Homo sapiens: one gene and its partners. The protein of the gene in region 2 interacts with the protein of the main gene of each other region in a pairwise test. Each region holds a gene or a part of one and is shown on either strand. Other genes may lie near its edges.

Region 1 (2,648 bases), on a different chromosome or scaffold from region 2:
TGTGGCGAGGGTTACAATGGCCTCTTTTTTTTCTTTATGTTCTTTAAATTTTTTTTTAATTTTAATTTTTATAAGTTTGTAGTAGGTGTATGTGGCCTCTTCTTAATGACTGAAAAATAAGCAGGTGGGCCTCAGAGCTATTTGCCCTCCTTTCCCACCTGGACTTCCATTCCTACTCAGGTTTTTGTTCTAACACAAGCTGGTTATTTGTAATTTTGCCATATGGCTGAGCCTGAGGGTGAGTGGTCAGTGGAACAAGTGCAGGGAAAATGGTTTGCAGCAAGTGTCTTTCTTCAAATCAAGCCTCCCTTTTGTCTCTCCTTGAAAATATAATATTAGAGGATTTTATCAGAAAAAGGGAGAATACACAGTGTCCTGCTGTTGCTAGGTAACCAGAAAACATCAAACCCAGTCAGAGCTGAAACTGGCTTGATTTTCCCTAGGAACCTGGCTGCTCTTGCTGAGTACTTTGTGTAGTATTAACAGATCTGTGATTAACAGCATAATGGTGAGGCTGGAGGGTCTCCTTCATTCTTTCACTTTTTACCCCCACCCCTTGACCACATCAGTAAAGTGCCAAATATGTTATTTGAGCCTTGAAGTCAATTCTTGACTGACAGATATTCTGAGGGAAGGTGCTCTGCAGATGCAAATATAGTTGATTTACACATAGCTGGAGTATATACTGTATTTCCATGACTTTCACCCATTTTAAAAAATAAATGGGCATCCCTTTTTCAGCAATAGCAGCGGTTTAAGATCCCATGAACAGTAACCCATATTTAGTCACAGGAGACATTTGTGCACACAATCGAACATATCTTAATGATATTGATGAATGATTTTGACACCTATTATGTTCCTTTCTCATTGGGCTTGGCCATTCTGTGGCTGACTATATGGGCACTGCATTTCCTAATCTTAGAGAGCTCTAACGCCAAGACATCTGCCTTGTACATCTCAGGTGGCCTCCTGTAACCTGTGCTGTCTGTTTCTTGCAGATTTGGACACCTCCCACACTGAGTCCCCAACCCCCCATGACTCAAATTCACACCGCCCTCAACTGCAGGCGTTTATAACAGAAGCAAAGCTAAATCTACCGACAAGGACAATGACCAGACAAGATGGGGAAACTGGAGATGGAGCCAAAGAAAATATTGTTTACCTCTAATTGTGTTGTCATTTTTCCAAACAAAACAAAACACTGGCACTTTTGGGAGAAACTTTTTGTCTCCATTCCTTATGTATGTGTGATTGTCTGTGTCCAAATTGCTTTAAGAATAATATTTAATATTTCCTGGAAGCTCATTTTTTTGGCATGAGTCTAATTAAATTATTGAAAGCCACCCTGTTTGTATAATCTTTAACTTATCAAATCTAATTTCAGATTTCTGGAGGAGAAACTAACTTGAATAAGCAGGACTATTTTAAAAGTTGTTTTGACGCTAGAGTAAAATTCCATGTCACATTTTCTACCCAATCATCTGGATTTCAAGATTCCTTTTAAGATCTCAATGAAGCAATTTGGATTTAAAGAGTGGTATTCACAAGGGGTGAACTTTCACAGTCAGGGCAGTTGCCTCAGTGCCCACATAGGCAGAGGAGGATGTGGGAAAGGGTTTTTCTCAGCTAGTTTTTGTGTGCTCATTTCTTCTGGGAGCATTAAAAGTGGTGATCTGTTACAGTCACTATTCAACTGGGCACGTGTTGTGATTGGTCAGTCACTGAGCCAGGGATACAGTCCGGACTTGCTTAGTACCTAAGCCTAATGCTGGTGGGGTTTCAAGACATGGTTCAGCATCATCTTTTAACAAGGCCCAGAGGCCCAGAGCCCCCATCAAGTCATTTTGATGTAAATAGTGAACTTTGTTAGAGCCCTCACTTCTATCAATCAGCTGTCCTGTCCCTGCCAGCACCTGGAGCACCAACTACCACTCCCTGGAAAGAACCCTTCCCTGCAGTTTTTTAAGGACAAAACTGCCCACTCCTCATTAAGTTTGCTGCCTGGATACACTTTTCCACAAAGGAAAACTGGCATATCCTGCCTTCCGAGTAGTATGGGTCTCTGTGTGAGAAACCAGGAGATATTTTCATCTTGTTCGGAAATACTTGTATGTATTTTGGTGTCAATAAATATCTTGTACCTCATTATTTTACTTTGTAATTTTAACATTATGTGTAGGACCATAGTAAAACATTCATTTCACACAGACATCTAATCTCACCTCGTGAAAAGTGAAAATAAAGGAAAACTATTAGATTCATCCAAAAATGCAACACCTACTGGGAGTGAGATGTGATAGGAACAGAAAAAAAAAAAAAAAAATCACCCGGATCTCAATAGTTTTTTCTCCCTACTTAAAGTTGTTAAGTTGGATATCTACATTGTGTTTTTACTTAGGCAAGTCCAATCCTAATTTTTTTAAAAGCCCCTTTTGGGGGCAGTCTTTTTCTGACTTTAGCTGGCTATTTTTGTAACAATTACATTAAAAATTCGGTGACTGATCTTTTCACAGAATGGATATAACTTATTAAACTTCTATTCAATCACTTCACCTCTAAGCTGAACTCTTCAATTACAACATGTATCTCCCATTCCTAAAGACATCTAGAAATATCTGTCTTTCCTCTTTCTTCAATAAAGTCTA
Region 2 (3,500 bases):
AGTTCTCCCGGATAATATCCTGCAGAGTGTTTTCCAACTTGGTTCCATTCTCCCCGTCACTTTCAGGTACACCAATCAGACGTAGATTTGGTCCTTTCACATAGTCCCATATTTCTTGGAGGCTTTGCTCGTTTCTTTTTATTCTTTTTTCTCTAAACTTCCCTTCTCGCTTCATTTCATTCATTTCATCTTCCATCGCTGATACCCTTTCTTCCAGTTGATTGCATTGGCTCCTGAGGCTTCTGCATTCTTCACGTAGTTCTCGAGCCTTGGTTTTCAGCTCCATCAGCTCCTTTAAGCACTTCTCTGTAATGGTTATTCTAGTTATACATTCTTCTAAATTTTTTTCAAAGTTTTCAACTTCTTTGCCTTTGGTTTGAATGTCCTCCCGTAGCTCGGAGTAATTTGATCGTCTGAAGTCTTCTTCTCTCAGCTTGTCAAAGTCATTGTCAGTCCAGCTTTGTTCCGTTGCTGGTGAGGAACTGCATTCCTTTGGAGGAGGAGAGGCGCTCTGCTTTTTAGAGTTTCCAGTTTTTCTGCTCTGTTTTTTCCCCATCTTTGTGGTTTTATCTACTTTTGGTCTTTGATGATGGTGATGTACAGGTGGGTTTTTGGTGTGGATGTCGTTTCTGTTTGTTAGTTTTCCTTCTAACAGACAGGACCCTCAGCTGCAAGTCTGTTTGAGTACCCGGCCGTGTGAGGTGTCAGTATGCCCCTGCAGGGGGGTGCCTCCCAGTTAGGCTGCTCAGGGGTCAGGGGTCAGAGACCCACTTGAGGAGGCAGTCTGCCCGTTCTCAGATCTCCAGCTGCCTGCTGGGAGAACCACTGCTCTCTTCAAAGCTGTCAGACAGGGACATTTAAGTCTTCAGAGGTTACTGCTGTCCTTTTGTTTGTCTGTGCCCTGCCCCCAGAGGTGGAGCCTACAGAGGCAGGCAGGTCTCCTTGAGCTGTGGTGAGCTCCACCCAGTTGGTGCTTCCCGGCTGCTTTGTTTACCTAAGCACGCCTGGGCAATGGCGGGCGCCCCTCCCCCAGCCTCGCCGCCACCTTGCAGTTTGATCTCAAGACTGCTGTGCTAGCAATCAGGGAGACTCCATGGGCGTAGGACCCTCCGAGCCAGATGCGGGATATAGTCTCCTGGTGCGCCGTTTTTTTAAGCCCGTCGGAAAAGCGCAGTATTCAGGTGGGAGTGACCTGATTTTCCAGGTGCCGTCTGTCACCCCTTTCTTTGACTAGGTAAGGGAACTCTCTGACCCCTTGCGCTTCCCGAGTGAGGCAATGCCTCGCCCTGCTTCGGCTCGCGCATGGTGCGCGCACCCACTGACCTGCGCCCACTGTCTGGCACTCCCTAGTGAGATGAACCCGGTACCTCAGATGGAAATGCAGAAATCACCCGTCTTCTGCGTCGCTTACGCTGGGAGCTGTAGACTGGAGCTGTTCCTATTCGGCCATCTTGGCTCCTCCTCCCCATCTATGGTGGGCCTTAGCTTTTCTAAGAGGTATGAGGAGCCATTGAAATGCTTAAAGTTGAAGCATCACCTGGCTAGTTAGGCAGTGCTAGAGAAATAGGAAGACAACTGAAAGCAAAGCCGTCAGCTGGAAGACTATCCAAGAGTGTGGCAGTGGAGATGGTGTGGCAGGAGCAAACAAAAGGTTTAAGGAGCCTGAGACCAATAGGACTGGTTGCTGACGGTTAGGCAGGTGGGAAGGAAGTATGATGAGATGTTTGATATGAATTTCAAATTTTTGACTTAAGAAGTTGGAGGTGCTGTTAGGAAGAGCTGGTTGGGGAGAAAAAAATACTAATATTTCAGTTTTAAACATGTTTAATGTGAATATTTACGTGCAGCTCTACTCAGAAGGCAGTTGGAAGTATGGGAACAGAGCCTGCAAAGAGGTCTAGGCTGGAGACAGATAACCTGTGTTCCTCAGCATGTTGGTGGTTATTGAAGGCATGGGAGTAAGTGCAGTTGTTGAAGATAAGAAGGAAGAGTGAAACAGGAAAAGAGTTAAGGAAAGGAAAATATTTAGGGCATACCAACATTTGGTAGATTTTTCAAAGGAAGATAAACCTCCAAAAGAAACTAGGAAGAAAACGTCAGGGAAGAGAAGGTCTAGGCCGGAATTGAATGATGTAAATCCAAAAGGATAGAGCTGACCAGGATGAAAGGGATTGGAAATGGTCTCAGTCAAATCAAACACAACCATACTGGAGGAAGGGAGGGAGAGACACAGAAGGACAGTTGTGTGTGCTTACATTTCTGATGTGACACAGCATTTTAAGAAACAGGCTGTGTCCTTGGAAGACAGAGACTAAATTGGTATGAAGGTGAAGATTACAGTCAGGTAATCAAAGAGATTTATATTGATTCACATCAAATAAATGTGAAAGTGACCCAAGATGAGGGTTGCAGTACTTGGAATGGAGAAGGATACTGTCAGCTGTGTGGGTATCGATACCTCCGTGTACGAGGTGCAACAACTCATAGTTAAACAGATTTTAGAAAAAGAGGAAAGTAATTATTTCCTCCTCTGGGCAGCCACACTTAATCTTTTACCTTTATCTCACAGATATCTCTTGAGATACCTATCACTTTGTAGTTTATAATAGAATTATTTCTGTGATTTCCTCACTTTCACATTTGTTTCTTTGTTCTGTCTATCTTCCGCTAGATTGTAGGCTGTTTAAGGGCCTGTGCTGTGTATTTTTCATTATTGCTTTATCCTTACTACCTAACAAAGTGTCTGGTACATAATAAATACTCCATTGGAAACTATTGAATGAACAATTGAATGAACGGATGAAAATGGAAGAGGGGGCAAAAAGAAAGAACAAAAGAGTCAGATGGTTAGAAAGGAAAATGAGTCATTCTCTCACTTCTCATGCTGGACAACAAGCCTTCCCTTGTGGACAGGTCCTTTGTCTTATCCGGTGCCATCAAGTATCACCAGCATAGTGTCTCTTGCAGAGTAGATCATCTAGAAATGTTGCTGGAGTGGATAAGTGGGAGCATTCCCAAAGCATATTTTAATTTCGTAGGTTTTCTTTCTTTTTATACTTTATTAATTTTTTAATGTAACAAATAATTGAGGAAAAGTTATCAACAGATTGATTCATAAATATAGTAAAGTATGCATATTCTGTATTTCACATATCTGATTTTATATGGTGATAGCCCTTTTGATTCTTCTGGAAAAGGAAACTCTTTATGACAAGATACACTTCGTATTTGGTGGAGATTGAATCAATAAGTGGGGAAGGAAAAGCAAACTCCAAGGTGCTGTGGCTCTGCCTGTCGCAAGGTCACCAATTGACCTGTCATCCCTTTGAAAGGCCATCCTTAAAGGAGCAGTTTAGAAGCATCTGCTCACTGGCACTCCCACTACCTATTTACCTTATTCAGTGTCTTTCTCCCTTTTTGTTATTCCCAATTCTTGTCTTTTTACTTTGGTGAACTAGAGAATCACTGTCTGCTTCAACTAAACGTGCATCATTATATCT
Region 3 (3,500 bases), on a different chromosome or scaffold from region 2:
AAACAAGGTTTCATTCCAAATGTAAGGAGGGTTAGCAAAACCTCGTTTTTCTCTTTAATTTTTTTTAAAAGTACATTTATAAAATCTTTGTAGATTTCATGTAACTTTTGCTTTGCAGGGAAGATGCAGGTGTGAGCCACCGTGCCCGGCCTCATATAGATTTTTAAAACTTGAGGTAGCTTGTGAAGTTATTTCTACTAACTTTATAAAACTTTTGAGATTGCTATGTACAGTTAGTTTTGTGGGTTTTTTTTTTTAAGGGAAGTGAAGATTGCATTCTCTTAGGCTGTTTAGTTACTCAGAATACTAGATTGGCCTAGCCAAACCTGTAAAGGTATTTATTTGGTAGAGAAAATTTGAAGCTGTGGTTTCATTTGTATCTCCATTTGAAAAAATACAGTTGTTTCTTGGTGTCCACAGGGGATTGGTTCCAGGACCCCCCTGCCCATACCAAAATCCAAGCGTGCCCAAGTCCCTTATATAAAATGGTGTGGTATTTGCACGTAACTAACACACATCCTCCCATATTTTAAATCATCTGTGGATTGCTTGCAATACCTAACACAATGTAAATGCTGTGTAAAAAGTTGTTATACCGTATTGGTTTTTTTATTTGTATTTTTTGTTGTATTGTTTTATTTTCTTAATATTTTCAGCCTGGGGTTAGATGTGGAACCTGTAGATACAGAGGGCCAACTCTATATTGAATAGAAAATAATAATAATAGAAAATATGTGATTCTGGCTGGGCGTGGTGGCTCACACCTGTAATCCCAGCACTTTGGGAGGCCAAGGCGGGTGGATCACCTGAGGTCAGGAGTTTGAGACCAGCCTGACCAACATGGTGAAACCTTATCTCTAATAAAAATACAAATATTAGCCCGGTGTGGTGGCGTGCATCTGTAATCCCAGCTACTCTGGAGGCTGAGACAGGAGAGTTGCTTCAACCTGGGAGGCGGAGGTTGCAGTGAGCCGAGATCGAACTCCAGCCTGGTGACAGAGCAAGACTCCATCTCAAAAAAAAAGAAAGAAAGAAAATATGTGATTCTAATAAATCCCCCTTCCGTTCTGTAAACTTTCGTATTTACTTTGTGAGTTGTTAATTGGATTAAATTTTGTTTGCTTAAATTTATAAGTATTGTTATATTCAAGAGAGATGAAGGCTTATTTTGTGCCTTTTATAGTGGTAATGAAAATTTGTAACACTTTAAATTGCAAAAGAGAAAAATTAAACCTTTCTAATCAAAAGATCTAATGGTTACCACCATACCCATATGATCAACCTTAGCATTGCTGTTAGACGGCCTGACGCAGTGTGCCTGCTGTGTGTTGCAGGAAGGGGCACACTGCCTCACCTGGGAAGTGTTCCTGCCTAAAAGCTTTACCCTGAATTCGATCAGGCCTTTAACCTCCAGGTTTCAGGAATTACAAGGCATAGAGGAACAAGCTCAACTAAATAACCAGGTAGTTATTAGACAGATCTAGAACAAACAGCATTTTACAAGATAGTGTCAGAGGAAAAAAAGGAAGAGGAGATGAAGATGATGGTGATGATGATGATGGGGAAGAGGGACTGTTCTTAATCAAGACACTTAAAAACCAAAAGCATTTCAGGAACTTTGGTAGGATCCTGGTTCAAAAAAAAAATCAGCTGTTTAAAGGACATTTTTGGGATATCTTGGAGAATCTGAATGTGAACTGGATGGGAAATGACATGGGAATTAGTGATTTTATTAGGGGTAGTAATCTGACAGGAGAATGTCCACGGTTTCAGGAGATTGGGGTGAAGTGTCATGATGTCTCCAACTTTCTTTCAAATGGTCTAGCAAAAAATACAGGTGTAAGGGCAAGAAGTATGGTAGAACATTAACAATAATTGAATGTATAGAAATGATTTTCTTTTAAAAACTTTTTTTTGTAGATTCATAATAAAGGAGATAGGAAGGATTCTATATCCTAGTAGGAGGGAACAAAACTCTTATCCCCAAGTATCTTTTGAAAGTGACTAAGTTTACTGTAAACCTTTCACAGAAATGGAGAAAATCTCATGTTTTTGAAAAAGCTGAAAGAAAATAATATATGATTATAGTAATAAATTAAAAGGCTGTTGTTTTGAGATTATGGTTTTCTCATATCTCAAAGGTTTGTTGCAGGGACCAGAAAGAAAATCTTTGTTGCAAACAGTGTGAATTTTAATTTGAAACTTCAGTATGTTTTCCTTGTTTTTGATGATTTTAGAGCCAAAGGACGAAACAAAGTACAGTCCTCGCCCCAGTCATTGACCTGAAGCGAGGTGGCTCCTCAGATGACCGGCAAATTGTGGACACTCCACCGCATGTAGCAGCTGGGCTGAAGGTAAGCCCGCGCCTGCCTGTGAGCTTGATACGTGTCTCTGTTCCCATGTGGCTTATTTTGCATATGAGTTACTCTTAACAGATGGCCTCCTTGGTGGGCCTTTGAAACCAAGTTAGTATCATTTTCCACCTAATTTTTACTTCTGTTTTGCCAATTTTAAAATGTATCTATTTGAAATTAAATAGTTTGTTGTAGAAAAATCAGAAACTAGAGATACGCAGAAAGAAAAACAAATTACCTTCAGTCATACAATCCGGAAGTGAAAAACGTAATATTTTTCCATCCTGTGCCTACTCCACCTTCTGCTAACTTGCTTTTCTTACTTAATACGTTGTGACTCTGTCAAAAAATACAGGACTGTATGATCACGTTTATGGCTTCACTATATTCCCTTGTATATAGATGGACTATAATTTAATTCCTTTAATGCTGGATATATGGGTTGTTTCTATTTTTTGCTATCATAAACAGTGTTAGTACTTACTGATTTATTGTGGATTAAAACAGAGAAAGGGGTTTTAAAACCCACTTCTACCACCCTAACCTGTATGATTCCAGTGATTTTACATATGCTTAAAAACAAACATGTGGTCAACTCTATAAATTGGGTTATTGAGGATGAAGAAGATCTGGAAAAGGATAACTCAAAATCATAGTTAAAACTAGACAAAATGAGGTAAAATGAGTGAATAAACTAGTTAAAATTATACCCACAATTTAAGTATACATTTATCTTTCCACAGATGGCGTTCAAATAATGACTGTGGTCATTTAAACAGCATCATGAATTGCACAAAACCGCTTGATGAAAAATGACCAAAAGATTAATAATAGTGCTATCGAGACAGTTTCTTAGCAAGGCGCGCCTGTCCTCCCCACCACCTGTGGGAAGGGCTGCATCAGGCTGGGGCAAAGGGCACACTCCTGCCCATCTGTTTCACGTCACTGTTCTGGGTTGGGCTCCGTCTCCTGCCTGTCCTGCTTATGTTCTGGGCCAGTCTGTGGCTGCAGCTTACCCTTGAGTTGTCCTTTTCTGAGGGGAGCGGGTGCTGTTCCTGAGGGCTGGTAGTTCTTCTGGAGGGGAAGCACCACATGGTGGAGGTGTTTTTTTGCTGATTCCTAGTCATTGAGCATTTTCCCCCATAA
Region 4 (3,500 bases), on a different chromosome or scaffold from region 2:
GTCACGCAGGCTGGAGTGCAGTGGCACCATCTCGGCTCACTGCAAGCTCCGCCTCCCAGGTTCACGCCATTCTCCTGCCTCAGCCTCCCGAGTAGCTGGGACTACAGGTGCCCGCCACCACGCCTGGTTAATTTTTTGTATTTTTAGTGGAGATGGGGTTTCACTGTGTTAGCCAGGATGGTCTTGATCTCCTGACCTCGTGATCCACCCACCTCGGCCTCCCAAAGTGCTAGGATTACAGGCATGAGCCACAGCACCCAGCGAACACTGCAATCTTGTTGGAAATTTAAATTAAGAAACATGCAGTGACCAAGTATATCCCCATTATGGGGTATACTGACCCTACCTGGGACCTCTGCAGATGCACTGGTTGAGATATGGAGACAATCCCCCCAGGATACTGGCTACTATGTTCTCAGAAAAATTCTCAGTAAACATATGGGCTGTCAAATATTTGCCCAAATATTGGTTACAGATACTTAAGGGACTGTAATCAATTGCACACCTTAAACTTGTGCTGCTCACTTTTCTCATCAGTAAGTTAAAGAAAATAAAGGAGTAGAATAAAATAGCCTCTGAAGTATCTTTGTTTCTATTTGTCTATAATCTGCTTCTTAAAATTAAATAGAACCTTTTCGTTCAATGATTATCAACTAGATGGGATGTCAGCAAATTACAGCCCAGCACATGAACCAAATCGAGGCTGGTTTTGAACATAAAAGTTTGATTGGTACCAGCCACACCATTTGATTCTGTATTGTCTATGACTGCTTTCCTGCTACAATGGCAGAGGCAAAGTTGAATAGTTGTGTAGTTGCAAAAAGACTATATGTTCCACAAAGCCTAAAATGTTCACTATCTGACAATTTACAGATATCTGCTGACTCCTGAACTAGATGATGAATAACAATTTATATAATTCCAGAAAGCACCGATGCTCTGAGCCCAGTGAGGATAAGTGTTAATTTGACCATAGAAACTAGGGCATCTTATACTTACTTGGGTAAACCTTTAATGCAAGCAGCCAAGTCCTTGGTCATGAAGCCAGCCTCAATTGTCTCAATAGAGACTTCTTCCAAAGCATTTGCAAAGAAGGCAAGCTCTTTATTGTTATCAAGCTTTGCTCTGTGGGCTAACCCTCTGGTCCAGGCAAAAATGGAAGCTAAAAGAGGGGAAAAAAAACACAACACTCCAATCATCCTAGTTATAGAGGTTTCCAAATGTCTCATAGTTCCCCAAAACAGAATAGTTTTTTGTTTAGGTGACAGACTTCTTTAGATACTAACCACATGGGCTAGAAGTTTTAGGAGAGTTAGAAATATTTTACCAAACAGAAACTTTAAAAAAACACATTTTCATGGCATGGTACTAGTGTTTGAAACTTAAGGCATTTTCTAATTTGAAAAAGGTCACAATCTCTTCTATCTCTTGTCTATATTGGTCTCCTTTTTCCAGGCTGTAATCTCTTTTTGAAGTGCTATCTTTGAAACTTGTTAAAAGGATCTATCCATGTGACTTTTAGATTTGTAGCCTTATGTGACATTTCACTGCACCAGAGGTAAAGGAAAATGCTTGTTGATAACATTCCTCTCTGTAACCTATGTTCTCCCACAAAACAGAAAAGCAAATATTGTATATTTTAAGAAGCATATTCAAATAGATCTTACTAGTAGAACAAATCAGCTACTTGGTGATGACTTTGCACACAAAACACTGAGCAGCCAAGGGAACACATCTGGGCTGCTTTGGAGAGCACTCTCTGGTGAGAAATCAATGTAAACACCATCTTACCAATGGGATTGGTGGACGTCTCCTGTCCTTTCTGGTACATGCGGTAGTGACGGGTTACAGTCCCGTGGGCAGCCTCTGCTTCTACTGTCTTGCCATCTGGACAAACCAGCACGCTGGTCATCATGCCGAGAGAGCCATACCCTGTAAGTAGTGGAGCATGAAGCGTTGGGTCCAACTGCATGAAGAGCACTGAGTCTCTCAGAGATGAGAGCATAAATGACTCAATCTTGATAGGTCTTGGTAAGCAAAGTAAACAAGAGCACATGGAATCACCAATAATTCTGCCTTTCAGAAGGCAGGATCCCCGCTCCAGATATCAGAGCCAATGGGTCTGGAAAGGCTGCATTTTCCCCTCACTTATTTCAGGGATACCTACTCCTTGATGGAGGGTTCAGGGTCCAACTGCCTACATTCCACTCTAGTTCTATGACTTCATAGCTACTGCGGCTCAGTTTTCTTATCTGTAAAATGGGAGTAATAACAGCACCTACTTCACTAGGTTGCTGTGGGATTAGATAAATATACATATATTCATAAATATATATGAATATATATTTATATTCCTTAGAATAGTACTGGACACAGAGCTCAATCTATTATTGTTATTCTTATGTGCAATGCTCTGCTGTTCTGGGGAAATAAAGATGGACGAGAGCTGTCTCTTAAGAACCCTCAAGCTGCTCATACACTTGCTGGGACTGGGAAGAGAAGGCAGGTAAACACAGGATCGGTTGGATCTAAGAACATCCCAGTTGCCCTTCCTCGCTCTCTTTCATACCCTCAGTACAACAGTTCTCTTCTGTGGTTTCTTATTGAAAGAACCACATTACAACTCTTATATCTATATAATTGATTTTCTTCTTTTCTCCATTTTTGCTACCTCCCAACATCACCTGTGAAGTTAATAATCAACCACGGAGTCATCACAAAGCAATAACACTCCTTCCTCTGTTGCATTCAGTACAAATGATTGTGAGGATGTAGAGAAACAGAAGGATGGTAAGGAGAGTTGTGTAACTCATTTATCTGGCAAAAAGTTATCTTTAACCAGGTTGATCTACTGATTTTCAAACTGAGAGGAGATGTTTAACACTGATAAGAGACAGAAAAAGTAGTACTTCTTGGGAAAAACAAACATAATTAAAGTTAACAAACATTCATCTGGGGAGATTCAAGTTCATACAGCTACCAAGGGCAACTGAAACTGAAGGGCAACTTGGTGCTGAGGAAACCAGGCGCTGTGTTTCTGTTGATTTGGCCCTTACCCCATGCATGAAACTTCTCCTGGAATTTCTGTAAACAGCCCCTAGGGTTCTTTGCTCAATTGATTTGTGTGTAAGCTAAGCAGTAAACAAAAACACTTTTTCTTTGTTGTTGTTGAGACAAGAGTCTTGCTCTGTTGCCCAGGCTGGAGTATAGTGGCGTGATCTCAGCTCACTGCAACCTCCGCTTCCCAGGCTCAAGAAATTCTCATGCTTTAGCCTCCTGAGTGCCAGGGACTATAGGCATGCGACCACACCTGGCTAATTTTTTTTTTTTTTTTTTTTTGAAGTAGAGATGGGGTTTTGCTATGTTGGCCAGGCTGGTCTTGAACTCCTGGCCTCAAGTGATCCACTGCCTTGGCCTCTCAAAGTGCTAGGATTACAGGCGTGAGCCACTGTGCCCAGCCAAACACATTTGTTTTATATTCTACCAGAACAGCAGCTGGC
Region 5 (3,500 bases), on a different chromosome or scaffold from region 2:
TGAATTTTTTTATGACTTATGCCTTCCTTAAAAATATCCTCTTTGAAATTTGTTAGTGCTTGTAGTAATAGTAAATCTTTTGTTCTTACAGATTTGAATTATTTTCTGTCTTCATTACCCTTTCTTGCTGCGGTTGATTCTGGTGTAATGGGGATATCATCAGACCAAGTCAGGCTTTTGCCCCCACCCAAGAATGAGAGGAAGTTTTGTTATGATGTTTCTAGCTGTCGTTCATCCTTCCCTGAGACAATGAACAAGTGGAACACCTTTTACCAGGTTCCTTCTTTATACTCTTACGAGATAGGAAGAGAGTTTATTTTGTCATATAATTTCGTCTAGGATTTTTTTGTGCATTACATAATATTTTCCTTAGTATGCAGATGTAAATTGCTATGCATGATATATTAATAGTATATTGTAGAGTGTTATGAGTCATTAACACCTACTGCCTCAATACAGCATTAACATAAATCTATCCATTCTTCTTGCCTCAAATACATTATACAAAAATGGTGAGCATACAGGATATTTTGCTGAATGATTAATAAGCTATTCTGATTAATTGAGTCTTCATGTCCACTAGGATATTGGAAGAAATTTGACTAAAATCAATGAAGAAAAGATATATTTACTAGTACTTTAGTAGATTATTGCATTAGTTTAGATCTAATGAAACATTTTAAGAAGATATTTTTGTTACTCACGATTTTATGGTAATTTTAACAGTGTTAACAGGAAAAAATAAAGGCCTGATCGGTATAAAATATAAACTCTGAAAATACTTGAAGTTCAATACTTATAGATGCATATGCTATTATTAAAACTAATGAATATTTTTGTGTTATTTAAAGAGTGTTAGGCATTAAGGCCATATACATACTTTTTCTTAGAAATAAAATTCTTCTTTTATGTACAATATTGCTAAAATATATCTGAACATGACTAAATTTCAGGGAGAAGGATTTTATAGTTGCTCAAATATTAATAAATTTGACCTCTTTACCTTAGTATTTGCAGTCACCTTTTAGTAAGTTTGATGATCTGTTGAAGTACTTATGGGCTGCACACACTTCAACCTTGGCAGATAATATCAAAAGTTTTGAAGACAGGTAAGAATGAATCTTTAAAGTATCTCTATTTAATATGATAAATAATTTTGGGCATTATTTATATATTTTTCTTCTTCTTCTAGAGTGTTTTTCAATCTTTATATTAAATAATAAGCCTAACCATTGGAGATTATAGTGAGGATGTGTAAATATTTTAACATGATCAGGCTTAAAAAAGTGTTTTATGAAGAAGGGGAAAATTTTGAGAAAAAAAAGCCTTGCATGAAAAAACAAAAAAAAAAGCAACAGACAATACATTTTCCTAAATGTAGAAAACAAAATATAATATAAATATGTAGATGACCTTTATTATTTAATCATAGACACTGTTACAAGAAAAACTATAGATAAGATAAATGTAGCAGAATTCACTTAAGCAATGAATGATTCATTAATCAGCATCATCCTGAACCAGTAGAGGTTCAGAGAGCTTCACCCAGTGATGTGGGCAGGCAGTATTTATAGACAGAAAAAGAAAGTGACATATGGAAACACCTTGATTGGTTACAGCTCAGATTTGCCTCATTTGGACATAGTGTGGTGAGAAATTTGCCTTGTATAGGCATGGTTTGATCAGTTGGCAGCCTGTGATTGGCTGAAGCTCAGCTGCCATGATTGGCTGAGACCCATATTTGTTACAAGAAAATACTCTTAAGTTTGGTTGCAGTTTGTTTACAAACTACATTAAGTTGCAGTTTGCTACATATCGTGGCAATTTTAGGCCAAACTTAATTTAACAATTCCCCACCTTTTGGTCTGCCTCTCAATTTTGAGAGGTTGACCAAAACCTTGGGCATTGACATCACTCTCTGTCACTTTCATCATTGACTTATTTGGTATCAGTATGGAATTCACAGTTCACAAATCAGGACAGTTGACTGATTATTTATGTTCTCTTTATGTTTTCATTATTCTAATTTTAATGAGACCATTTGACATAGAATGAATAGCTGCATAAGAGGATTTAAGACTCTGGGGAGGTTAAGGTGCACCAGGGAAACTATTATGATGGCTGTCAGGAGGCTGATACTAAGAGACAGAAGGAACCTCAATGAATTGAACCAACATAAATCAAATATATAAATAATAAGCCAGAAGAAAAATCTACTTGTTTTAACCAATTGGCTTGTTTGTTGATTTCTTACAACTGAGCTTCTACCCTACCTGATGAATTTACTTAAGTACAGGAGGGAGTGTTAGCTAGCGCACATATTCCTCCCTAAAGGTAGTCCAAAGCAATCCGGTTACCTAATATGCCTTTAGCAAGAAAATCTAAAGAAGTTTGCTGGCCAATTGTAGCCTTTGCAGTAGAGTCAGCTGTAGTAACTAATGTATGAGACGTATTTCTAAGCATAACCTCCTTTACATTTATACAAAGCCAGGGAAGGAATTTTTTACCCAACAATACCCATTAAGAAGAATTCATACCTGCTGGTAAATTCCTCTTTATTCCATAGTTCAAATTAAGAGTTGCAGACCAATATCCAGTTTCCAATTAGTTATGGAGTGACAGGAGTACTCTTGGAATCCCTTAATTGTCGGTGGCTCCTTATTTTGTAATTATTGAGACATGGATTTGCCCACATATATGGTTGGTTGTTAAATCCTCCACAAATAAAAATATATTCTGGAAGAACCCTACAGATAGTCTCCTGTGTGAGATGCCTTGTGCGTTATGAGTCAGCATTATGAGTCAGCATTAGTAATATTTGTCTAAGGCCTCATTTTTTAATCATTGTATGGTTAGAAGATACTAGCAACTAAAGGATTAGGGTTATAAATTTGCCTACAAACGTCGAATTATCTTCCTTTTGTTTTTCAAATTCAATTCTGGCTTAATTTAATTACCATACTCTCATTATAGGTTTTGCCTACTGTTAGATTTAAACAGGCAATCTGAATATTTGAATCTAAAAGTCTAGCTGTTTAGAAAGAACTAGATATTGCACATGGAATATCAGTGAAATTTCTTACAGGGTGAACCAGAGTATCTCTAAGATCATGTGAGGATTTAGGTTTAACATGACATATGCAATACTCAGTTAAGTTCCATGCAGAAGTAATTGAGTATGAAATCTTCATTATCACATTATATTGCCATGTGTAGACAGAAAAGAAACATGGGCCAAAAAGGAAAAGGAGAAAAGACTTCATGTTGACAGAGGAGAAAAGACTTTATTCATGATCTTGGGAAAGCTGTCTACATCAAGGATGCCATCTTCTTCTGGGGAAAAAAAACGTTCCTAGTAAGCTTTACCTGGAGATCTCCGATGGGTGTACAGTCCCAGGGGTCTGGAGGGGCTCTCTTGAGTTGAGAAATGTGGATCCAAGACTCAAATCCCTGAAGTTGTGCTGCAAAAAAGAGCTTGGTGTGGTACCTTCTGATGGAGT
Region 6 (3,500 bases), on a different chromosome or scaffold from region 2:
GAGGAAGGGGGAGAGGAGAGGATTTTGGAGGCCAGTAGCTCAGGCTACATCCACGGCTAAGACAGCCTTCCTGAAATCCCTGGAACCTCCGGGTCTTGGTTAGCACTCCTTGCCTTCACCCCTTCAGGCAAGGGGTGGTAACACTAGCCCCAGGGACTGCACTATCCCTTGAGGTTACCCCAGACTCTGCCCAAGTCTTCGCAAATAGTCCCTTCTTCAAACACCCGTCAAAGACCCTCATCGGAGTGAGCATCTGTCTCCTGCTGGGAGCCTGATCGTATACTTAAGAAACCAGCGTACAGTCACCTTCCCTATTTCTGCATCTAGACCCCAAAGAAATTTTAAACCAACACCTTCTTTTCAGAGTCTTTCCATAAGAGGGAGGACAAGAGACACTTTGATGTCCCACATCAAAACGAGAAGCTGACACAAGAAGTAGATGAACACACTTAACTGTCACGTCCTCACTTGAAATCCAGGTTTGTCAATGGGCAGCCCTCCAAAGAAAGCCGAGACTCAGGCCCATGCAGCAGCTCAGCACAGTCCCTGCGAGGACCCAGCAGAGGCCCCTCTGTTGAGGCCCCAGGAGAAGTGCACCCAGTGCCCCAGAAGCCACACTTACTTGCGCATCAGCTTCTTTACTTCCCGATCTTCTTCCTCCTGGAGCTTCTGAATGAAGCTTTTAAGTACCGGCATCTCGAACTTTATATACTGGGCCACCTAGAGAGAAAGAAGCAAGTCTGGGTGAATGCCCTTCCCAGCATTATTCCAATTCCTTTCAGGGTTGTCCTTATACAAGGCACAAAGCCTTGGGAAGTCTATTTTTTTCAGAAACCCAGGATTTCCTTAAAGGCAGCAGCCAAGCCTCATTCCTCACCAGGGTGGGAAGGAGTCTGCGATGATCGCTTCGCTTACGTGACACCATCTCATAACTTCTCATTTTTCATGTCATGCATTCAATTCATGATGAGGTGAAGCCAAACACAGAAAAGTACTTTCTTTTGACACAGTGATGCAGAGAAAGAACTGAACCCATTATGTTTAATAAACCCCTTTGTTCTCCCCTAAGAGAATGGAAGGAATCAGGGTTCCAGATGACGATTTGGGTCTCAAGGCTCAAACAAGCATCCAAATATGAACTCGCTTTGGAGAGGCTGTGGGTGGCTATGGGGTGAGTTAAAGTTTAAAAACGGTGCCAGGCATCGTGGTTCATGCCTGTAATCCCGGCACTTTGGGAGGCTGAGGCGGGCGGATCACTTGAGGTCAAGAGTTCAAGACCAGCTGGCCAACATGGTGAAACCCCGTCTCTACTAAAAATACAAAAATTAGCCAGGCATGGTGGTGCACACCTGTGGTCCCAGCTACGCAGGGGTCTGAGGCAGGAAAATAGCTTGAACCAGGGAGGTGCCACTGCACTCCAGCCTGGGCAACAGAGCGAGACTCCATCCCAAAAAAAAAAAAAAAGTTAAAAAATGGCTTCCCTTTCCCCACAAGAATCCCCACCCTGCTCTATCAACTCTTCTCCCTGGGATAAGTACATTTCTCTACCCTATTAATGCTGAGCTTGTCCATGTGACTGGCTTTGGCCAGTGGAATGTGTGTGGACATGACACACCAAATCTGAGTGGAGGCTTCAAATATGCTTACATGATTTGGCCTGGTTTCTCATGCTCCGCCATCTGCCATGAGGACCACACCCATGTGCAGTAACTACTGCCCCAAAAGCCTGGGCCTCTGGGTGAGTCACACAGTGCAGACTTGAACTCAACCCATACTTAGAGTAGAGCCATTGCTACTAGACCACAGAATCATGGGCAAAAAAGCAAATGTTTGCTGTTGTCAGCTACTATGATTTGGAGATGTTTGTTACTCTGCAAAAGCTGGCTTCGAGAGAACCTGGTGCTGAAGAAGTAAAAGGGGGCATGGTCGTTGGTCAAAAAAGTCATTCTATACCCCAGTTACAGGTGGTCCAACCAAATCCCCACCCTCCTGAGGACAGATCGCCTGACCCAAAGGGAACTCACGTCGTAGGTGACTTCCTCCACCTGGTCCTTCTCCATTAGGAACACTTTGGAGATCTGCTCACATGGGCCCTGGAGGATTCGGGCAATCAGCGGGTAATCGGTGGCCTTCAGCTTCTGTTTCTCTGCAACCACACACACCCAGGAGCAGCCCTGAGAGGCCTTTCTCACATTAAGTAGTGGTTAATGCAGGGGTCCAAAGGCACCTTAGGAGATGCCGCCATATACGTCAGGAGACTGATTTATAAGTGAACTATTCCATAGGTGTTGTGAAAAGCAACTTCCTCCCACTCCTCACCCCTCAACAATACCACCATGCCTCAAACTCCTTGGAGGAATTGGGTTTATCTGTCTCTTAAGAAAATCTAGTTCCTCTTTTAATAGGCAGTTAGGTTTAGAATTTGTTTACTGGCCATATAAGGCAATCCCTAGTAGACTCATACAGCAAGCCCATCAGCCTTGAAGGCAAACAACATTTGGAAGTTTCCAAAACTCAAACAACAAGCAAAGGAGGCAGAGGTATTTTTTTAACTTGCTATTTTGAGTTAATTAGAAGTTTTAAAGTACACTGTGGTCTTCAGACTTACCACCACTCGTATGGACCACGTACAAGGCAAACTCCTCTGCTGAATTCTCAATCTGAAGCAGGAGCAAAAGATTCTTGTTGAAAGTTTCTATTTAAACATCCCAACTTCGAGGCTTTTCCTCTTCTTTAGCAATGCAAAGCTAAGTCAATTTTAGGCTGTTTTGAGGGGAGAGCTATTTATCTACAACTCTCAGAAGTGATGAGAAGATCGAGAAGGCAGATGACTTTATCAATAATACAGTCATGCACTTAACCACGAGGATGCATTCTGAGAAATGTGTCACTAGGCAATTTCATTGTTGTGCAAACATCATAGAGTGTGCTTACAGAAACCTGGATGGCATAGCCTACTTCACACCTAGGCCATATGGTATATAGCCTATTGCTCCTAGTGTACAAACCTATACAGCATGTTACTGTACTCAATGCCGTAAGCACTTGTAACACAATGGTAAGCATTTGTGTATCTAAACATATCTAAACACAGAAAAGGTACCATAAAAAATGGATTATAATCTTACGGGACCACTGTCGTATATGTGGTGCATCATTGACCAAATTGGTCATTCTGTAGCACACGACTAGGATAGATAACAGCTATCGTCTATTGCAATGTGCCAGGCATAGTTCTACAAATGTTAAAGGCTTCAACCCATCTAATGCTCACGACGATACCATAGTGAAGTCCCATTATCCTCATTTTATGATGACGAAGCAGAGGCAGGGGCAGGTTAAGTAACCTGCCCAATTCATCCAACTAGCAGGTGCTCAGTGGAGATTTGAACCCAGAGCCTGTGTTCTTAGGTTGTTAGGCTACACTGGCTTCCATTAAAAATAAGAACACCTGGTCTCCAAAAGATCTCTGGTCTCCAAGAGATTGTGGAAAACACAGA
Region 7 (3,500 bases), on a different chromosome or scaffold from region 2:
AACTACCCATTTGAAACCTCAGAAAAGCTTGTTAAAAAGGACGGCTCATTCAGACTGGCCAATTAGAGTCTTAGTGTACTTGGCACTGCCTGATTTCCAGCAGCATCTCTGGTCCTCACCCTTCCTTCCAGCCACACCCTACTTTCCACATCCTGGACTTTGGACATGTCCATTGCTCTACTGTTGTGCCTTTTTCTGCTTGGAGACGCCTGTATGTAAAGCCTGATCTATCGGGCAGAGCTTCTTCTTCGTTATTCTCTTCCTAAGGCACTGTATTCATGACTTTTGTGTAGCACCTTTACTGTAGCCATCAACACACATGTCTCATCTCTACCACAAGATCTCTGAAAATAGGCCTCTGTGTGAACTAGTCACCTCTGTGTCCCCAACCCTTGAACACAGTATGTTACTCAGCCAGTGCTCTTGGTAAAAATGAATGTGAGGTTTTAAAACAGCAGTGTGCCAGTATTTGTTTTCTTGGAGTAATCAAAGTAATATTCTGACTAATGTTTAGTTGAATTTTGGATAAAGCTCAAAATAAGCATTGGATTCCCGTAGCTTTGGGTTTCTAAACCCTGGAAGTAATGAATGTGACAAATGTGAGACAGGATATTAGAGTTAATAGTGGGTAATCATTCCATTATTTGTGATCCACTGCACATCTGCTACACTGTACATGTTAGATGCTACAGTGACACAGAGCTATGGATCTTGCCTCAAAAAAGCTTATGGATGAGTAGCTAAGGTCAGCAGATAATGGTGACAATGCAGAATAGAAAGGGGTCAGAGGCCGAGTATGGTAACTCATGCCTGTAATCCCAGCACTTCGGGAGGCCAAGGTGAAAAGAGTGCTTGAGCCCAGGAGTTCAAGTCCAACCTGGACAACATGGTAAGACGCATCTCTCCAAAAAAAAAAAAAAATAGCCAGTCTTAATGGCGCTTGTCTGTGGTCCCAGTTACTTGGGAGACTGAGGCAGGAAGATCACTTGAGCCTAGGAGGTCAAGGGTACAGTGAGTTGTGTTCACGCCACTGCACTCCAGCCTGAGCGACAGAGCAAGACCCTGTCTCAAAAAGAGGGTCATGTCGGAAAAGGTCCTATTGAAAGAGGTCTGCCTAAGAGCTCTTGAAGGTTATTTAAAGGAAATTGTTACTAGTGGAGGGTAAGGAATCTTCTATTTTTATTTTTGTGAGACAGGGCCTTACTCTGTCGCATAGGCTGGAGTGCAATCGCGTGATTGTGGCTCACAGCAGCCTCCAACTTTTGGGGCTCAGGCAATCCACCAGCCTCAGCCTCCCAAGTAGCTGGGATTACAGGCATGTGTCACCACTCCGAGCTAATTTTTTTTTTTATCGTTTGTTTTTTTTTTTGTAGAGACAAGGTCTCTCTTTATTGCCTAGACTGGTCTTGAACTCTTGTCTTCAATCAATCCTCCCGCCTGGGTCTCCCAAAGTGCTAGGATTATAGGCGTGGAAAACTAAGGGAATGGTGTGGTAGATGGGCCCTTCAGGCGGAGGGGTATCACATGAGCAGGGAATAGAAAGGTACTGAATCTAGATAAGGCCTAGCAATCGGCTTGATTTGGCTGGAGTCAGAGGCTTTTGGCAGGAGAGGGATGAGTGGCAAAGTGCTATTGTGGCTAGGGGCTAGAGTTCTCAAAAGTCTAGCTAAGCCTAAAAGAATATTACTGAGGGTTGGCCAGGTGCGGTGGCTCACGCCTGTAATCCCAGCACTTTAGGATTCTGAGGCAGGCGGATCACAAGGTCAGGAGATCGAGACCATCCTGGCTAGCACGGTGAAACCCTGTCTCTACTAAAACTACAAAAAAATTAGCCAGCCGTGGTGGCGGGCGCCTGTAGTCCCAGTTACTCAGGAGGCTGAGGCAGGAGAATGGCATGAATCTGAGAGGCGGAGCTTGCAGTGAGCCGAGATCGTGCCATTGCACTCCAGCCTGGGCGACAGAGCAAGACTGTCTCAAAAAAAAAAAAAAAGAAACTGCTACAAGTATTGATTTGAGTGTTAGAAATTTTAATGAGTGGTTGAATTCACAGGTGTGATACCTGAGGATAATGAGGATTGGCTGTGTGTAGTCTTGCAGCCGTTGCACCTAGTTATGGAAAGTAGAGGCCAGTGAGAATCTTGTTTCCACAAATTTCACCCTGTTTTTTTTTTCATGGTAGTATTCATGCCTGATATTATTGATGAAGAGACTAGTATATTTTTGTGGCCTTTTGGAAAAAGGAGTTGGTCTGACATTGGAACAAGCCTACCAGCCAGAATACTTTATTCTAGCCCCAATTAATGTTTGATTTATTAGGAGCCTAAGAATGTGATGAACTTTGAAAATTTTTACCAATAATTTAACTGTAAGAAAAGTATGATCCATTAAAAATGTTTACCTGGCCTGGTGCGGTGGCTCACGCCTGTAATCCCAGCACTTTGGGAGGCCAAGGTGGGTGGATTACCTGAGCCCAAGAGATGGAGACCAGCCTGGGCAACATGGTGAAACCCCTCTCTACTAAAATATAAAATATTAGCTGGGTGTGGCGACATGCGCCTGTAGTCCCAGCTACTCTTGAGGCTGAGGCAGAATTGCTTGAACCCAGGAGGCGGAGGTTGCAGTGAGCCGAGATCATGCCATTGCTCTCCAGCCTGGGCAACAGAGTGAGACTCCATCTCAAAAAAATTTAAAAAAAAGTTTATCATCAGGCTCTTCATTTTTTGGCTGTTGATTTTTTTCCTTATTTTGAGAGTAGGCCTCAAAGAGCAGGAAGGCTATTCTTGATTAGGCGTACTTCAGGGCACAGTGACGCATCCACTGCCTCTTTTAAATCTCATCTGAGTCCTTATTTTTATTTTTTTATTTTTTTAAAGATAGGGTTGCACTTTGTCACCCAGGCTGGAGTGCAGTGGTGCAATAGCCCATTGTAACCTCGAACTCCTGGGCTTAAACAGTCCTCCCACCTCAGCCTCCCAGGTAACTAGGACTACAGGTGTATACCATCATGCTTGGGTAATTTTTATTTTATTTTATTATTTTTTTTTGAGACGGAGTCTCACTCTTGCCCAGGCTGGAGTGCAGTGGCGCGATCTCGGCTCACTGCAACCTCCGCCTCCCGGGGTCAAGCGATTCTCTTGCCTCAGCCTCCCAAGTAGCTAGGACTACAGGCACGTGCCACCACGTCTGGCTGATTTTTTGTATTTTTAGTAGAGACGGGATTTCACTGTGTTAGCCAGGATGGTCTCCATCTCTTGACCTCGTGATCCACCTGCCTTGGCCCCCCAAAGTGCTGGAATTACAGGCGTGAGCCACTATGCGAGGCCTAATTTTTAAAATTTTTGTATACAGATGGGGTCTTACTGTGTTCCCCAGGCTGGTCTCACACTCCTGTGCTCAAGCGCTCATCTTGCCTCATCTTCCCAAAGCGCTAGGATTATAGGCTTGAGCCACTGTACTATCCTGCAGAACAAAGGACAGGGAGATTAGACTAAAGGATGGAG

What was found.
Region 1: the proteins of NEK7 (region 2) and ARHGEF28 interact in binary tests that used the Homo sapiens proteins (3 or more experiments, as listed by UniProt).
Region 3: the proteins of NEK7 (region 2) and RBM17 interact in binary tests that used the Homo sapiens proteins (3 or more experiments, as listed by UniProt).
Region 4: the proteins of NEK7 (region 2) and IDH1 interact in binary tests that used the Homo sapiens proteins (3 or more experiments, as listed by UniProt).
Region 5: the proteins of NEK7 (region 2) and C6orf58 interact in binary tests that used the Homo sapiens proteins (3 or more experiments, as listed by UniProt).
Region 6: the proteins of NEK7 (region 2) and RASSF2 interact in binary tests that used the Homo sapiens proteins (3 or more experiments, as listed by UniProt).
Region 7: the proteins of NEK7 (region 2) and RBM5 interact in binary tests that used the Homo sapiens proteins (3 or more experiments, as listed by UniProt).

Annotation. Positions count from the first base shown.
Region 1 is NC_000005.10:73,939,843-73,942,490, forward strand, and holds the end of ARHGEF28 (rho guanine nucleotide exchange factor 28), read left to right. Parts: intron 1-1,001; coding exon 1,002-1,171; 3' UTR 1,172-2,148; downstream 2,149-2,648. UniProt on the Homo sapiens protein: Functions as a RHOA-specific guanine nucleotide exchange factor regulating signaling pathways downstream of integrins and growth factor receptors. Functions in axonal branching, synapse formation and dendritic morphogenesis.
Region 2 is NC_000001.11:198,313,998-198,317,497, forward strand, and holds part of NEK7 (serine/threonine-protein kinase Nek7), read left to right. Parts: intron 1-3,500. UniProt on the Homo sapiens protein: Protein kinase which plays an important role in mitotic cell cycle progression. Required for microtubule nucleation activity of the centrosome, robust mitotic spindle formation and cytokinesis.
Region 3 is NC_000010.11:6,099,034-6,102,533, forward strand, and holds part of RBM17 (splicing factor 45), read left to right. Parts: intron 1-2,237; coding exon 2,238-2,354; intron 2,355-3,500. UniProt on the Homo sapiens protein: Splice factor that binds to the single-stranded 3'AG at the exon/intron border and promotes its utilization in the second catalytic step. Involved in the regulation of alternative splicing and the utilization of cryptic splice sites.
Region 4 is NC_000002.12:208,238,072-208,241,571, forward strand, and holds part of IDH1 (isocitrate dehydrogenase [NADP] cytoplasmic), read right to left. Parts: intron 1,933-3,500; coding exon 1,792-1,932; intron 1,163-1,791; coding exon 1,000-1,162; intron 1-999. UniProt on the Homo sapiens protein: Catalyzes the NADP(+)-dependent oxidative decarboxylation of isocitrate (D-threo-isocitrate) to 2-ketoglutarate (2-oxoglutarate), which is required by other enzymes such as the phytanoyl-CoA dioxygenase.
Region 5 is NC_000006.12:127,580,174-127,583,673, forward strand, and holds part of C6orf58 (protein LEG1 homolog precursor), read left to right. Parts: intron 1-91; coding exon 92-276; intron 277-1,008; coding exon 1,009-1,109; intron 1,110-3,500. UniProt on the Homo sapiens protein: May be involved in early liver development.
Region 6 is NC_000020.11:4,785,609-4,789,108, forward strand, and holds part of RASSF2 (ras association domain-containing protein 2), read right to left. Parts: intron 2,661-3,500; coding exon 2,609-2,660; intron 2,147-2,608; coding exon 2,025-2,146; intron 721-2,024; coding exon 623-720; intron 1-622. UniProt on the Homo sapiens protein: Potential tumor suppressor. Acts as a KRAS-specific effector protein. May promote apoptosis and cell cycle arrest. Stabilizes STK3/MST2 by protecting it from proteasomal degradation.
Region 7 is NC_000003.12:50,095,419-50,098,918, forward strand, and holds part of RBM5 (RNA-binding protein 5), read left to right. Parts: intron 1-3,500. UniProt on the Homo sapiens protein: Component of the spliceosome A complex. Binds to ssRNA containing the consensus sequence 5'-AGGUAA-3'. Regulates alternative splicing of a number of mRNAs.